Regions from separate parts of the Homo sapiens genome. Here region 1 is linked to region 2. Evidence: fine-mapped expression QTL. A gene starts in region 2. The other region holds a variant in brackets. All regions are shown on one strand. Distances are from middle to middle. Region 1 overlaps CCR5AS (CCR5 antisense RNA). Region 2 holds the start of LINC02009 (long intergenic non-protein coding RNA 2009).

Region 1 (8,475 bases), 24 kb after region 2:
GCCATTCCTGCATTCTTCAGCATTCTCCTTACCCCCTTTAGTAGTTCATACCCTTTTATAAGTTAATAACTCATTATATTTAATGTTCATGTGTGGTTTCTGTCTTGACTGTATGCTGATTGATACACACAACATTAAATTTAGTTCAGGGAAGGGATGGGGAAATGCTAGGATGATGCCTTTTTTAGAGATCTAACTTGATCTTGAGAAATAGGTATTAGATCAAAGAGCTAAAAACAGAAATCCCATTACTGGGTATACACCCAGAGGAATATAAATCATTCTACCATGAAGACACACGCATGTGAATGTTCATTGCAGCACTATTCACAGTAGCAAAGACATGGAATAAACCTAAATGCCCATCAATGACAGATTAGATAAAGAAAGTGTGGTACATATACACCATGGAATACTATGCAGCCATGAAAAGAACGAGATCATGTTTTTTTGTGGAAACACGAATGGAGCTGGAGGCTATTACCCTTAGCAAACTAACACAGGAACAGAAAACCAAATACCTTGTATTCTCACTTATAAGTGGGAGCTAAATGATGAGAACACATGAACTCAAAGAAGGGAACAACAGACACCGGGGTCTACTTGAGACTGGAGGGCGGGAGGAGGGAGAGGAGCAGAAAAGATACCTATTGAGTACTGGGCTTGATAGCTGAGTGATGAAATAATTTGTACAACAAACCCTCATGACAAAAGGTTACCTACGTAACAAGCTTTCACATGTACCCCAGAACCTAAAATAAAAGTTCAAAAAATTATTGTTTAAATGCATAATAACAAATTTGGAAAATTTCAAAAAAAGAGAAATAGGTATTAGAATGTTTAGACTGATGATAATTTAATCTGTCCCTTACTATGGCTTCTTCAAATATAATCTTTCTTAGATTATCAATTAGTCAATCCATCTATCTAATTTTTATTAGCAAATAAAATGTTACAGAAAATTTGTATAGAGAAAAACTATGATAGTGATAATCTCACATAATAGCCATTATAAGTTTTAAATACCACTGCTTCTTAATGGGAAATGTAGAAAAACTACTTTTAGAAAACAATCAATTTTCTTCTGAATTAGTTGTTTGATATTGAGTAGTAGATCAAAGAGGTAAATAATGGCATATAATTTTAAGGCTTCGGAGACCATCTTATCCTGCCCCCAGATTTTCTTTCCCATAATTGGCTGATCCCTAAAATTCCACCTCAGTACCCAATAATTAGTAGCTGTGATACCTGGGAGGGCAGATAATATTTCTAAAATACAGCTGTGTTGATAATCCACCCTGGAAATACAGATTTTATATGTACTTACTGGGAGTGAAATAGTGTTGACTATTCCCTAAAGCAGTCTTTCTCAATGCATGTTGAGTTTATTCCGCAGTATGCTAAAAAGTGTAAAAAAAAGGATGGGAGGCTATTGCTCATTTAAGTTTGAAAAATTGCTGGACTAAAAAACTAAAGCAAGTTTCTTTACTACAGGACTTCTCAGAGCCCTTCATATACTAATAGGCATTATGATCCTTCATGAGGAAGAAAGGGTATGGAGTGTTTCCCAAAATGTTTTGATCATGAAACCCCTTTTAAAATTTTCATACAGGTACTTATAGGCTAAAAGTTCAGTGAGTATATTCTGAGAAATGCTTCCTTAGACATACAAATACTACTGTGTGGTCTAGTAATAATAAATAAATAAATATATTATTAATTAAATTAATAAATTAATATTATTAATTAAATTAATAATAAATAAATATTACTGTGTGGTCTAGTGCACCTCCTGCCCCAGCTCTGAGGGAGCCTAATTGACTGAGGGGCCCAGCTGCTGCACTCTGAGACCCATGTCTGCGTTCATGCCAAGGCTGTGCCCTCCGTGGGCTGCTCCCACTCCATGACACTATTAGGGACACTATGATAGGCCCATCCCTTGGAGAGGGACTCCTCTGATGGGTGCCTTTGGCACATGCTTCAGCCAAACCTTGCGTCATTCCCCATCTCCTTCACTTGGAGTCAGACCTGCTTGTGATCTCATGGCTTTCCCAGCTTCTCCTGGCTCCCTTTGCAGTCCTGCAAATGTCACAGACATTTCCTCTATTATACTTCTTGTATGCCAGACCCCACCTTGGGTTCTGTATCTTGAAAGATTTGGACTAACATAGTCTTGGAAGGAAGGGCATCATTTTCTAGAGTCTTGAGTCCTTTGCTTACCATGAAGTAATACACTTTGCAGCATTTCGATCCCTTTCTTCTTACCTCCCATTTTCCTGTGGCCTGCGTGGACCAATCCTTTTGGAACACATAAAGCCACTTAATTCCATCATATTCCCATTCTGTCATGTTTGGCCAACTCCTCAGCTCATATGACTTTTTCTATTCCTCGTTCTTTGATTTGTGCTTCCTCTGCCCTAATCTCACCTCCCAATATTCCACTTTCTCCCACGCTTTTCCTCTGTGTCTCTGGAACCTGAATTCTGACAATTTCCCTGACATCTTTGATTTATGCCAAAAACATTCGCACCATCTCCTGTCCCTTGAGGATACTCCTTCCCTCTCACATCTGTCTCAGATTTGGGAGTCAGAAGGTGACATCCTTGGCCTCGGTGCCATTTTTTGGCTATTAATTCCCTTCTAGATATAAAGGAGACTGCTGTGGGCTCCACTTCTCCAACTACATTGCTCTCTGCTCCACCTCACTGCTATCATCCACTGACTGCCTGGTTGCCCCTATTTTATTCAAGACTTGTGCACATGGATAAGGGGCTTCTATTCACCCCAGTTTCCCACATCATCCTGGTGGCTTAGTTGTCCATGTGGACCCCCATCTGGTGCCCAAGTCTCAGCTCATTAACTCAACTCCCTGGCCTTCGGTTTCACTCCACTAGTGCCCAGCTGAGGTTTGTTAACATTGATTTACCACTGAATTCTCACAATAAAATTTCTCACTTTTCTGATGACAACTTTTACTCCTTTGGTTTCTCTCACTCCATTTATTCTTTGTGTAATATGTGTTGTTCATCAAGCCTTCCAGCCTCTGACTATCAGCCCCTCCCACGATCACATCCCTCTTTATCTAGCTGAGATCCAGTAGTCTGCCACTTAGTCATTCTCTTGTCAACACCCTGACCTCTCTTGAAGCCCCAGCCTTAGATAAATTATCCTCTACATTTTTTCTTTGAGTGTGTGTTTCCGAGAACAGCTGTTTAAAACCACTTAGCAGCCGGGCTCAAGCTTGTAATCCCAGCACTTTGGGAGGCCGAGGTGGGCAGATTACTTGAGCCCAGGAGTTCAAGACCAGCTTGGGCAACATGGCGAGACCCTGTCTCTACAAATGTACAAAATATAGCTGGGAGTGGTGGTGTGTGTCTGTAGTCCCAGGCCCGGGAGGCTGGGGTGGGAGGATTGCTTGAGCCCGGGAGGCAGAGATTGCATTGAGCTGTGATTGTGCTACTACTACTACACTCCAGCCTGTGTGACAGAGTGAGACCCTGTTTCAAAAAAATAAAAATAAGTAAAACCGCTTAGCTATGTGGACAAGATACATTGGTAATTTAAGATCTTCAACTAGCTTCCAGAGATTCTTCTAGATTCCCTGATAGCTGTTCTGAGTGTGACAAATTGTCACTTTATCCAATTTTTCCATCAACTATTTCAAGCTACCTAAAGCTTCCAGTCTCTTCACCCCCGTTCTAATGACTCCCATTTACTCTCAGGAAATGATCTCATCTTCTGCTTTTCTCAGAACTCCTCAACTCCTCAGGCCCCAACTTCAAATGCAACTGTGGTATGTCTACATTTTTCCTCTCTCCATGGAC[A/C]GAGTTGCTCCTCTAACACCAAAGGCTAATCTCTCCCCCTGCACTCTGGATCTCATTCCGTTTAACCTTCATCATTTTTTCCCACATTTTCTTTGAGTCCCAACTTTTTCCTCTCTATTAGATTATTCAGAATTTTTAAATGCTCAGATCTGTCCCTTAAATAAAGATTACAAACCCACTTTGACCTCAAACATTGGTCAGACCATTTACTGTCTCTTCTCCCCCTCTTCCAGGCAGTTTCACTAGTTGTCCAAACTCTGTTTCTACTTCATCACTGCTCATTCCCTACTCTACACCCTGCAGCCTGGCTTCTGCCCCCACCATTCCACTGAGATTGGTCTCCCTGGGTTCACCCACACATCCTTGTTTAAATGTAATCAGCTGCTGGGGCAGCTAATGCATCAAGTGCCCATGAACAGGAAGTGTCCAGGATCTCCCGGCTCTCCATTACTACAGACAATAACAACAACAAGACGCAGACATCAGTCCAGCCCACAAACACCATTACATTTAGAGATTCCCAAGCTGAAGTGGTGCTTAAGATTTTTTGACACCTGTTAAAATGTTATAGAATCTAAAAACATTAATACAGGACTTTGCAGTGAAGATGACAGTGTAGTGTAGATGAAGATGAGTAAAGCAGGATAGCAGACTCTTCCCTCCTCTAATATCTCAATGACCAAAAACTAGTTTTAAAACTATAACATCTGCTGGCAGCAACTGAACAAGAAATAGGGCACAATCTTACATCAAAACGTTGAAACATGGTGCTTTAGAGATATGCCTAAACCCAATCCTACTGGGTTTCCCAATCCTATGGAATAAAGAAGGAAAATAAAGAAATCCTGAGAATTGTCTAATACTCTCCAATCAGGAGACAAGTGGCCTTGGGGGGTGAATATGCATTCCTAGAAAGAAAAGAAAAATATTTCTTCAGTTTGACTTGAAAAAATGGAAAAAATTAAAAAAGAAAAAAAGACAAGAAAAAAGAATTTAAAAAACCCTATTGAGTTAAAGCTCCTACATTACAGAGGGTAGAAGGGTTTCTAGGACTTTTCATAGACCAGGACAATGTGCTGAGTTAGGACAATAAGACAAATTCCAAAAGAGTAAGACACCCTTGTATATACCGAATTGGCTCTGGTATAAAATTTGTTGCTTTTTTTGGATTTTGATTTTTTATAAAAACAATTTTAATAAAGTAATGATTTCATCAAATCTTTAAGGGTTATACTAGTGCGTGGAGCTTCTTAGAGGTATACAGAGGTTTATTAGCTCTGCCAGCTATCACTCAAGGTGATCCATTTCCTTGTGTGCCTTGCAGTTTCAATGTGAGTGTGTCTTGACTGGGGATTATTTTCTCTGCAGTAGCTTTTCATGGCTTGAAGTGGGAGCACTCCTTTCCAGAGGAGTTTTGAGTTTGTTTCAGCCGGGAACATTGAGGGCATCAATGGCCTGATATGAATTTTCCGCGCCTGGGTTTTGGGGTCTTCCATTTTGAGGGTATTATAAACCTGTGCATGAAGCACAGGATTTGTAGTCTCAGAGATTTTTCCCATACCACTTAAAGCCTAGGCAAAAATAGATAAGTGTTTGTGTTTTCCTCTGCCTGTGGGTGAATTTCTTCTAGTCCCCCTTTTCCCAAGTGCTAGATTTACATCAGGATCTCTCAGTTCCGGCTCCACATACCCCATAGGCTTCAGCCTTGCTGTCTGCCCCGTGTCGGAGTTACACGGACATGGCCTTTTTGATGCATGTGGGCTTTGATTTGTCTGCACCAGACAGTGACCGAAATGATCTCTTTCCATTGAGTAGCGTTTCAATGACCGTTTGTTGTAAAATGTGGTTCCTTTATTCATCTCATAGATATTTAGTGCCCACTGTCTTATAAATCTTCCTTTTGCCCTTCCATATCCATTCTCCACTCTCTACCCAGCTTTATTCTGGGGGATGCTCACCTTATTAACAGCAGGCTCCCCTGTCTTTCAGTTTTCAGTTGTGTTTGGCTGATGGGGAATTTTAGGCAGAAGATTGGAGAGCAAGGTCAGGGGAGTCAGGCCCTGGCTCCCTCCTGATGGGGTCTAGTGGGCTGATGTGTCCCTTGACGTAAGGGCAGCTCTTGTCAGGCAGCTCCCTCCCCTTGCCCTGTCTGGCCTTGCAGTGGGAATAGTGCCCTGCTCTCACTGGCACCAGGCACTGCACTGTGTATTGTGGCCTCCCTATACCTTGTCCAAATTTTTGTATAGAATCCTTCATTAAACTCACCTCAGTTGCCCTACTTAAGTGTGCCGTTTGGCTTCTGCCAAGCTCCTGAAGGACACCTCTCCCAAGTCCCAGGAACTTTGCCAGACCCTGGGGAGAAAATAGTGAACAAAGTGGAACCGTCCTCTGTCCTCGTGGCACTGGCATTCTAGAGGGAGATTCAGGTACGGAACTGACTATAATTCAGGGAGTCATGTGCCAAGCTGGGGGAGCACACAGGAGCAGTGGGAGCTGTCCCAAGAGCACCCGGCCTGGCTCACGAGAGGCAGGGGAAGGATTCCCAGGGTAGGTGTTACCTCAGTCAAGGGCGCATGGATGGGAGCCGGCCAGGTGAGGTGTGGGCCTCTTGCCCCCACTCCTCCTTTCCTCCTAATGTCTGCTTTTCAGGTTCTTGAGGGACCACCTACTTGTCAGAGATGGGGCAAGAAAAGAGAGAGTGATAGAATTCAAGGTGGTGACATTTTATTATTTATTAGCACCTGTGACTGAGTCTTAGTGAAAGAGAAAATTGAAACCAAATGCCAGACTATTTTAGGCTGGATTCCTGGGAATCCAGGGCTCAGGCTCTCTGAGAAGGAGAGTTGTATGCAGCAGACTTGTGGGGAGGGCTTCCAGGAGACACAATTGGAAAGGAGAGAACAAGACAGGACCAGGCAGAGGGAGAAGCTGCCCACGTGGTCACAGAGGAGGCCTCAGTTATTCCTACAAGGAATTAGGAATTGAGGGGAGGGCGCTAGGCCTCTGCAATCCAACATTAGCCAGTCATTGGCTCAGCCATCCCTGGGAAGGGGGCATTGCCTGGGCAGGCAGCTCCAGTTCCCAGAAAGGGGAGTAGATCTGAGTTCCAGCACCTCTGTTCCCATCTATGGGAGTGGGAGCATGGAGAGATGCATTGGCTTGAAAAGGGCATCTGGGCAGAGTCTCACAGTATCCACTGTACAGGTGGAAGGTTCTGAATTTCCTGCAAATTTCATTTACTCTGAATGATAGAAAATGGAAACAGAAATTTCTAAAGCCACAATGTCACAAGACCGTGGAACCCACATGTGGGCACACTGAAGGAGGAAGTCACGTGCACAGGAGGCCACACTGCCCACTCACTCCCTTAAACTATGCTGCTGGGGACTCATCCATCATCATTGGAGTGTGAAGTGCCCAGTTTTCACAGGGTCAGTCGAGTTGGGCAGACACTGGTCTGATATGAATCATCTTAAATAGATAAGAAACGTTTCTTTTATGAATAGAGGTAAAAATTAATACACAAAGTAGCATCCTCATTTAAAAAATATTCCCTTTAGTAAAATTAAATGACACATTGTAACTGTGCAGGAAAGGGTTTGGTCCTGGTCTTCAGTCTGGGTGGTGAGGCCCCTAAGCTGGGGACTGTGAAGGCCCTGCTTCTTCCTGCTCACGTCTCCCCCAAGGACAGTCCCAGAGTCTCCACAGAGGCTCCAGAGCCTCTTCCTTCCCAGGACCCACAACCTCCTAGCACTTGACTGGAGCCAGCTCCTACATCTGCACAGAGTCCACGGTTCCCATCTCAGCCACACCTTCTGGAAAGGGTCTTGGAAAGGGCCCCTTCCCTATCTGGTAAACCAGGACCTTCAACTTCAGAGGCTGGTCCTGTCCTCTCAGGAGAGCCCAGGGCTTGGGGGCAGAACCAGGACCTTCAACTTCAGAGGCTGGTCCTGTCCTCTCAGGAGAGCCCAGGGCTTGGGGGCAGAAGTTGTGCTTTTCTAGGCGGAAGGAGGGAACATTACTTTGTATTCCTTTGCCATGAGTGGGCAGAGGAGGAGACCAGGCAGGAGTTACAAAGTCTTTCTGCATTCCGATTGCATCACAGGGTTCCATGGATGTTTTTTCCACTCTTACCTTACTCTATGTCTCTGCAACATTTGACGTTGCTGACACTTCCTCTTACTCCCACAGCCCTCTCTCCCACAGCCAATCCCCCGGATTTGGCTCTTTCTTGGCACATCTCCTCACTGTTCTTTAGGGCTCCCTTTGCTGCCTGCATTCCTCCGGGTTCTGCTTGAGCTATTGAGTCCACCCCTACGGCATCCACTGCCTGTGACCCCAGATGTCGATCTCTACTCAGTCACTCTGCTGAGTTCAGTGTCAGCACATCCAGCTTCCCCTGACACTGCCACCTGGAGGTCCCCCAGGATATCCAACTCAGCCTGTCCTGAAAACCAAACTAATTGACCCACATCCTAAAACCAGTGCTCCCCATTTCAATGGGCCAAGACCCAAGCCTTGATCATATGCCTCCCTAAAAGTCCTGATAATCCAAGTCCTCCCTTGAGCCCTCAGAGCCATTAACTTCTCTCCAGTCAGGGCTTTCCTACCTTGGAAGAGGCCTCTGCTATATTCTGGAGAGAGCATTGCC
Region 2 (8,475 bases):
AGCATCGTAGTTAATGTGAGAACTAACCTGAGCACCAGTTTGTTTCAACAAAACTTTAAGCAACTGCACATAATGTTTTTCTTCAACAGACCAATTCTGCCCCATGTTACCCTGATTCAGAAAACTTCCCATTCCCAGTACTACTTTAAGGCACTGCTCCCAGTAGCTCTTTAGGGCACTGACCTTATATCTGCTGCCGGCAGACTTGTCCCGGGATCCCCATTCACCTTGTCAATTTCAATTCCTCTGCTCCAGCAGATCTTCTTCATTCACATCCTCATAGTCCCTGTGTTCGGACGCCACTTGTAGAGCACCTGATTCTGTCGCTGTTCAGGGCGCCACTATGTAACCCACACGGACCTAGGGGGACTGAACAAAGTGGGGTGAAAGCGGGAATAAAAGACATGAGACAAAAGAGCATATTTGGAAGAAGGGGTCAGCGGGCAGTTTGCCTCTAGTGGACAAGGGCCCTGAGCTTTACACAGCCCTCCATATTTATTAGGCAAAAGAGATAGCAGGAAGAGGGGCATGGAAGAAGGGGTCAGCTGCTGGGTCCAGAGTAGGCTTGCAAGACTGCATTCTCCAGATGTCCCAGTAGATAACCTCAAGGAGCTCGGTGCCAGGAAGTGATTGCCCTCAGCAAACCTTCTGGCAGTGGGAGCAGTCGTGAGTTTGCCCACATCCTGCATTCATGATAAATAGCTTGCTATTTGATCATAAAGCCTCCAGTGGAATGCTGAGTTGGTTACGTCCCACAGGCCTTTGGCTCCCTATTTACCCCTTCCAGGTTATTAGCCATGACTTTCCCTCTTTGTTTCTCTTTTCTATACTTTCCATGCATTCTACAGAATAAAGTATCCTGGGGCTTTAAAGTAATCTAATTCCTACTGAATCCAAAATAATCTGATTTAATCCTTGAATTTTCAAACAATTTCAATGAATTTCGTTTTTCACCAGGGTTTGGACCTCCCCCATAATAAAATCCCTTATTTCTTTTTGCCACTTCAGTCATAAAATCCAACCTACCATTTTCCATTGAAAGCTGAGTCTTTCTTATTTACATAAAAATTGTTGGATGTATCTATGGACAAACCAGGGGAAATTAAGTGTGTGGTGGGGAAGTGTTAAGAGGGCCTCAGAGTGGCTGCCGACCAGCTCCATGCATCCCTAGGTGAGTCCCCATCCATTCTCTCCCTCATTCTTAATGTGTTTCCAAACAGGTGAGGAACAATGAAAACCAAGTCGGACATTCTAGTGCTAATTATATAGAGAGAATTTATGTAAAATGTGATAAATGCAAAATATTTCATCAGAAGGAGTATTAATGTTAAATAACCTCAACTCACTAGTAATTAGGCAATCATTTTCATTGATTAGCACAATTTAAAATTCAAGTTGCTAATGATATTCAGTATTGTGAGGATGTAATGAAACAGATAGTCTTATTCAGTATCGGCAGGACCGTATTATTATACATACCCTTAGAAGGACAGTTTAGCAACATCTCTCAACATTTTAGGTGAGAAATTTATCTGCAGCTGGTGCCTCGGTGCTGATGCTGGGGGATACTGGTGAGCATGGCGCAGCATTGGATGGGGGGCTCCAGGCTTCAGGCTCCATGCTTCAGACTGCAGGACCTGGAGCTGCTTCCTGCATCACAGCAGGGCTGCTACAGTGTGCTCTGGTGCAGAACTGGCAGGGGTGCCTGCAGGCCTCTTCCCCAGCATGTGTGTTCACTTTTTTTTTTTTTTTGAGGCAGGATCTCACTCTGTTGCCCAGGATGGAGTGCACCGGAGCGATCACAGTTCACTGCAGGTTCAACTTCCCCGGTTCAGGTGATCCTCCCACCTCAGCCTCCTGATAGCTGGGACTATAGGTGCAGGTCATGCGGTGTCTCATGCCTGTAATCCCAGCACCTTGGGAAGCTGAGGTGGGTGGATTACTTGAGTCCAGGAATTTGAGAGCAGCGTGGGCAACATGGCAAAACTCCATGTCTACAAAAAATACAAAATAATTAGCCATGCATTCACTTCTGAGGGAAAAGTCATGGACTTTGTGGTGCTGTGAACCCCATGTCACTCATACCAGAAAGAACATTGTGTGCTTTGGGGTCTTGGGAAAGCTGACTGACCACCTGAGGTGATGCATACTTATTTTTTTATTTATTTTTATTTTACTATTATTATTTTTTGAGACAGAATCTCACTCTGTTGCCCAGGATGGAATGCAGTGGTGCGACCTCGGCTCACTGCAACCTCCGCCTCCTGGGTTCAAGCGATTCTCCTGCCTCAGTCTCTCCAGTAGCTGGGATTACAGGTGCCTGCCACCATGCCGAGCTTAATATTTGTAGTTTTAGTAGAGACGGGGTTTCACCATGACTGCCAGGCTGGTCTTAAACTCCTGACCTCAAGTGATCCACCTGTCTCCACCTCCCAAAATGCTGGAATTATAGGCTTGAGCCACTGCGCCCAGCCAATGCATACATTTTTCCTCAGGAGATTAGCTTTTACCAGCAAAGGGCGTTCAGAATCAGTTAGCTGACCATTGTTTTCTGAAGTAATCACAGGCCAGTCCCTAGTGGGAGAAAGAAGTGGCCTCTGTAGCAGGACACCTGGAGCTCAGCCCCAGCTCTGCTGTGTGGCTGTGTGACCTTGGGTAAGTCCCTTAACTTTGCTGGGCTCAGCTTTCTTTGTAGGCAAAATCAGGGGCTTGAGCTTGTTCTCTCTACAGCTCTCCTACAGATTGAGTCTGTCTGCAATCACAAGGAGCAGGAGAGGAAGAGACTTAAAATGTGTTATTGTGGTCAGCAGCTATGGGCTGAATGTTTATGTCCCCTCCCAGCCATTCTACTCTTTAGCTTAGAGCTATTCTCCACATGGGACCCAGTGGGTCCATGAGGTCAAACTATTTTAATGATGATACTCAGAAGTTATTTATCTCTCTCCTTATTTTACGAGTAGAATTTTCCAAAGGTTATTTGGCATTTGACAGTCTAACAGATTGGATGGAGAACAAGACAGAGAATCCAGCTTCTGGCCAGAAGTGGTGGCTCACACCTGTAATCTCAGCACTTTGGGAGACCGAGGCAGGAGGATCACTTGAGCTTAGGAGCTCGAGACCACCCTGGCCAGCATGGCAAGATCCCATCTCTACCAAAAAATATAGAAATTAGCTCGCATGGTGATGTGCGCCTGTGGTCTCAGCTACTTGGGAGGCTGAGGTGGGACGATTCCAAGGATCACTGTTGTTGCTAATTTTTTTTCTTTTAAAAAATACAGATATTTTTAATAAAAGTATGTTAATTATGTTAACCTGTAATGGGCTTATTATTTCAAAATCAATTAACAATGTAAATATTTAAAACTTCTGTGTTAAAATTTCTAATAGTATAAATAGCAGTAGATTTAGCCCACTCTAAGGGAGATGGTTGTGCTTTAGTCAGGAGTAGGCCGAGGCAGCCTTCTGGTGCAGCATGACTCAGTGGGTTTGGAGGCAGGCACACAACTCCACACATTATGTAACCATGCCATGTGAGGTGCATTAGGTGACCACTCATATGAGCACGTGCTTGGCTCAAAGCCACTATTGTCTGTAAAAGGTAAAATTACCCTGCTGACACTACATATGGCTTGCACCCAGAGAGAGAATAAAGCCATGTCGAAACCGCCTACTCGAGTGTTTTTCCAGTTACCTGCCACCCACCCACCAACTCCCCTTGGACTTTAGTTTGGGCTAGAACCTGACAATTGGCATCACGAACAGGATCCTAAGGTAAGTGAGCCTTCGGTCCCTGCTGATTCCAGGTTGGCCATGTGACCACAACATGGGTTGTGGTACCCGGTGGTAGCCGTGCTGTGAGGGTGGGCCTGAGTGGAAACCTGGGTGGCAGTAGATGGGTCCCCCATGAGCATGGAGAAGGCGCTGAAGCAGCTGGAAGTGCAGAGCACCAAGAAGGAGAGAGCCTTTGCTGGCAGAGTTGGATGGGCATTTTTAACTGTGCTAAGAAAAGTACACACCCAGTCCCTGAGGGATGCAGACTGGAGGTCTGGCTACACCGATCTGGAAAATAATTAGAGGCTGCCATGAATGGGGACCTCCAGGTGCAGGCAGGATGCCTGGAGGTGTGGCTTCAGAGCTTGGAAAAGGAATTAGAGGCTACCATGAATGCAGGCCTGGGTCCATCATCTTGTCTGGAGATCCCCACTCAGTTTCATACCAAGGAGGAAGAACCCCTGTTGCGGGCTCACCCGGTGGTCTGACAGAAGGTAGATCATGAACAGCCACTGGGGCTCCAAGGGTGGACTCAGGGACTCCCCACCATAATGCAACACATTTCGTATATTGCCTGTACCCCAACTGAGTTGCAGGAATTAGGCAAGCAGTGTTGCCAGTGTCCAGGGGAACCCCTGCCTGCCTGGATGCTTCGTCTGTGGAACAAGGGAGCAGATGGTATCTCCCATTCCACCTCTGAGATGGACAAGCTGGCCTCCACCATGACTCACCCCTCTCTCTGTCAGCGGCTGCAAGTGAGCAGGTGGTTAGTGGCAGCGCAAGGAGACCACACCCTGACTGAGTGGCTACAGGCAGCCATATGAACTGTGTGGAATAATGCTGGTGAAATGCCCAAAACTGTGAGTAAATGGCAGTCATATGCCAATTTGGTGTAAGTCATTCGGGAGATGGGTATGCGGCAGGCTATGTTTGTCCTGAATACCTGAGGGCCAGATGATAAATGTTTCACCTCCCACATGAGGGATCTCATGTTGGGTTTGATGCTCCTGAGCCCCTTTGGCTCCCTAGCTGCTGTCCTCACCCCATACGTAGGGCACCGCATACATGAAGTAACCACTGCCATGGCGGCTCTCAGGGAAGCAGAAGGCCTTCAGGGGGATTGGAGGGTCCACACCATAAAGAAGGGGAAGTTACCCCACCCACAGGGGGCTCCCCCATAAAAAAAGGGGGCCCCAACGAGTGACACGCTCACAGATGTGGATAGATTTGATTTTGGCTGGGGTTGACTGAGAGAAAATTGATAAGCAGCCCAATGAAATACTCCTAACTTTGCGGAGACAGTTGTATGCAGGGCAGCAATTCCGGAAAATGCCCAAAGGGGAGAAAGGCATTGCTGTGTGACCTGGTCCTACCCAGCTCAGAGACTACTTGCTGCAGCCAGGTGGAAATGTAGAGCCTTTTCTGTTCAACTAGGGAACTGGCCAAAGGTGTCTGGCTTGGGGGGACACCAGATGACCAGAGGCCACATGTGGAATTGGCAATCCACTGGTCCCCCACCAATGTACAGTGGGTGCTGGTGCTGGTAGATACTGGCATAGATTGTAGCCTTGTTTATGGGAACCCAGTTAAGTTTTTGGGCAAATCTGCATATATTAAAGGTTACGGAGGCCAGTCAGTGAAAGTGAAACCTGTATCTCTGTACCTTGGCATTGGCCACTTGGCTCCTTGCTTATACACTGTGTATGTCTCTCCCATACCTGAATACATTCTGGAGGTGGATATTTTACATGGCTTGGAAGCTGTGCCATCTATCATGGATTTGATGAACCACTCGACAATGGAATTAGGACAGTACCACTATGTGGTGGACTTGGCCAATGCATTCTTCTCAGTTGACCTTGCTCTAGAGAGCCAGGAACAGTTTGCCTTGATGACAATGGACTTTCACAGTGTTGCTGCAGGGCTATGTGCATAGCTCCACCATATGTCATGGTCTTGTTGCCATGGATTTAACAGCCTGAAAATGTCCAAAGGGAGTCCACTTGTTCCATTACGTTGATGATATTATGTTAACCTCTGATTCTCTTGCAGATTTAGAAGCAGTGGCACCCCTCTTGTGGCAACATTTGGCAGCATGCAGTTGGGCCATCAACAAATCCAAGGTCCGAGGGCCTGGATTACCTGCTAAATTCTTGGGAGTTATCTGGTCGGGTAAGATGAAGGCCATACAAGAGGCTATCATTGACAAAATTTAGGCATATCCCTGGCCCACCACGGTGAGGCAGCTGCAAACTTTTGTGAGCCTCCTGGGATATTGGTGGACATTCCTGCCTCATTTAGCTCAAATGATAAAACCATTGTATCAGTTAACAAAGAAGGGAGCAATCTGGGATTGGGCTGATGTGGCTGAGACTGGCTTCCTGGCAGCCAAGTGGGCTATTCAGCAGGCACGAGCCCTGTGGGTATTTGACAAGGGGTGCCCATTTGAACTGGATATGCATGTGACCACAGATGGTTTTAGTTTGGGCCTGTGGCAGCACACAGAGTGCCTGAGAATGCCAGGAGGCTTTTGGTCCCAACTATGGAAAGGAGCTGAGCTCTGGTATTCCTTGATAGAGAAATAGCTAGCAGCTGTATATGCTGCCCTTCAGGCTTGTGAGAAGTGATAGGATGGGCTACAGTCACAGTGTGGATGACTTACCTGACAGCGGGATGGGTGCATTCATGTGTAATGACCCCCCAGACTGGGATGGTGCAGACATCCACTTTGGCAAAGTGAGGCACTTACTTGGAGCAACAGAGTACGCTGAGCACAAGCCCATTAGCAGCAGAGTTGCAAGAGGTCTTGGGACCTGCAGTCCTAATGCAAGAGAAGGCCATGGGGCCTGAGGCACCCCTTGACCCTGAGCCACTGCCATTTAAGGAAGGGCGTCCCTCTATTCCTGATGGGGCATGGCACACAGATGGGTCTAGTCGAGGTGCTACTCCTGCTTGGACCAGTGTTGCAGTCCAACTTAGTACCAAAACCATATGGTTTGAAACCAGATGTGGACAAAGTAGTCAATGGGCTGAATTTAAAGCAGTATGGATGGTGATCAACAAGGCGGAGACACCTATGGTAATCCGTACCGATAGCTGGGCAGTCTATGGAGGCCTAACTTTGTGTTTAACTACTTGGAAAATACAGAATTGGCTAGTTGGCCACCAACCCATTTGGGGCCACCAACCCATGTAGCAAGACCTCTGGGAAATGGGTCATTGCAAAGATGTAACTATTTATCATTTGTCAGGCCATATGCCTCTGGCCACCCCCAGCAATGACGAGGCAGAAGCCTTGGCCAAGGTCCGATGGTTAGAGTTGGCATCTACATGAGATGTGGCCTTGTAGCTACACCGGAAACTGGGACATGCAGGGGGTAAACTGATGCAACAAGTCAATAAATGTTGGGGTCTGTCTCTGCCCATGCAAGACATTTGGGAGGCTTGTCAGAAATGCCCGGCATGTGCTCAGGCATACCCTAAATGGAGGCAGCTGTCCAGTGCTACACAAGTGACAACAGGGCAAGTGCCCTTGACCAGGTGGCAAGTAGACTACATTGGGCTGCTGCCGAAGTCACAAGGGTATACTCATGCGCTAACAGCTGTGGACACAGCCACAGGCCTGTTGTTTGCCTATCCTTGCAGGGTGGCCAACCAACAGCACACCATCCAGACCCTGCAACACTTATGTGCTCTATATGGTTGCCCTTTGGTCATTGAGAGTGATGGGGGACACATTTTACTGGACAACAGGCACAACAATGGACATAAAGTAGGGATTCCATGTACCGCACAACTTGCAAGCTGTGGGTATGATTGAGTGATATAGCGAGCTCTTGAAGAATGGGTTTTACTTGCATGTCACACTCCTGTCTTTGCAGGGCTGAAGTTCCAGGCTGGACCTGATGCTCCAAACCTTGAATGAATGGCCATGGAAAAGCAGCCCAGCCCAGGTGGAGGCTTTGTTACATGGGCCACCACCCCTATTCAGTTGCAGATACACACCAAGGGTAACCGCCTCTGACCAGGTATGGGGATGAACAGTAACCTGTTGTTGCCTGCCCCAACGTCCCTGAAGGCAGGGGAACAGAAAACCTGGCTGTGGCCATAGCCCCTCCAAGCCCCCGGCTGCTGGTGGTTGTCCATCGTAGCTCCCTGTGGGGAGGGCCTACAGTATGACTTGTATGTCACTCTTTGGGTGTTCAATGAATGGTCCCCGAAGTTAACTGTTTGTAGGAAAACGGCCAGGGAAGAAACTTTCCTCCAGGGTTCAAATGTACTGTCTGTGTGGCCTACTACAAGCTCCCCTGTGACTTTCGCATGAATACAGGACCCAAAGGAACCATGGGGAGCTGAAAAGGTGTGGTACTATTGCCCAGGGCAGAACCCCTTGGGGGCTGCATTGTTATCCAGGGATGAAAGGTTAGCCTGTATTTTACCTGAGGGATGTGATTTTCCTCTGTTAGTACCTATGCCTACTCTGTCATTCCAACTGTAGGTTAACATGCTCCAACTGCATTGTGGACTGGGCCCACACCTACACTGAAGTGACCAATGTTTCCAACTGTTGGATCTGCACCGCCCTTCTAGCAGCTGCAGATGGCTTGCCTTAGCACATACATTCAGCATCTGCAGAGAACCAGACATGGCTGGAGACTTGGGGTCCCATGGCTGATGCCTGGAACGCAACGTGGCAAGTTTTGG

Evidence for each region. PIP is the estimated chance that this variant, and not a neighbour inherited with it, causes the effect.
Region 1: its variant is fine-mapped to the expression of LINC02009 in esophagus muscle (GTEx, PIP 0.91).

The regions. Positions count from the first base shown.
Region 1 is chr3:46,395,035-46,403,509 of GRCh38, reverse strand. All of the region lies in intron 1 of CCR5AS (CCR5 antisense RNA), which reads left to right. Among named protein-coding and RNA genes, the nearest start is that of CCR5AS, 7.8 kb to the left of the region's middle. The variant A/C (reference allele first, on the strand shown) is at 3,825.
Region 2 is chr3:46,418,841-46,427,315 of GRCh38, reverse strand. It overlaps LINC02009 (long intergenic non-protein coding RNA 2009), which reads left to right and starts at 3,649. Exons shown (of 5, transcript NR_151704.1): 1 at 3,649-3,771; 2 at 4,518-4,631; 3 at 5,824-5,943; 4 at 7,653-7,799; 5 at 8,270-8,475.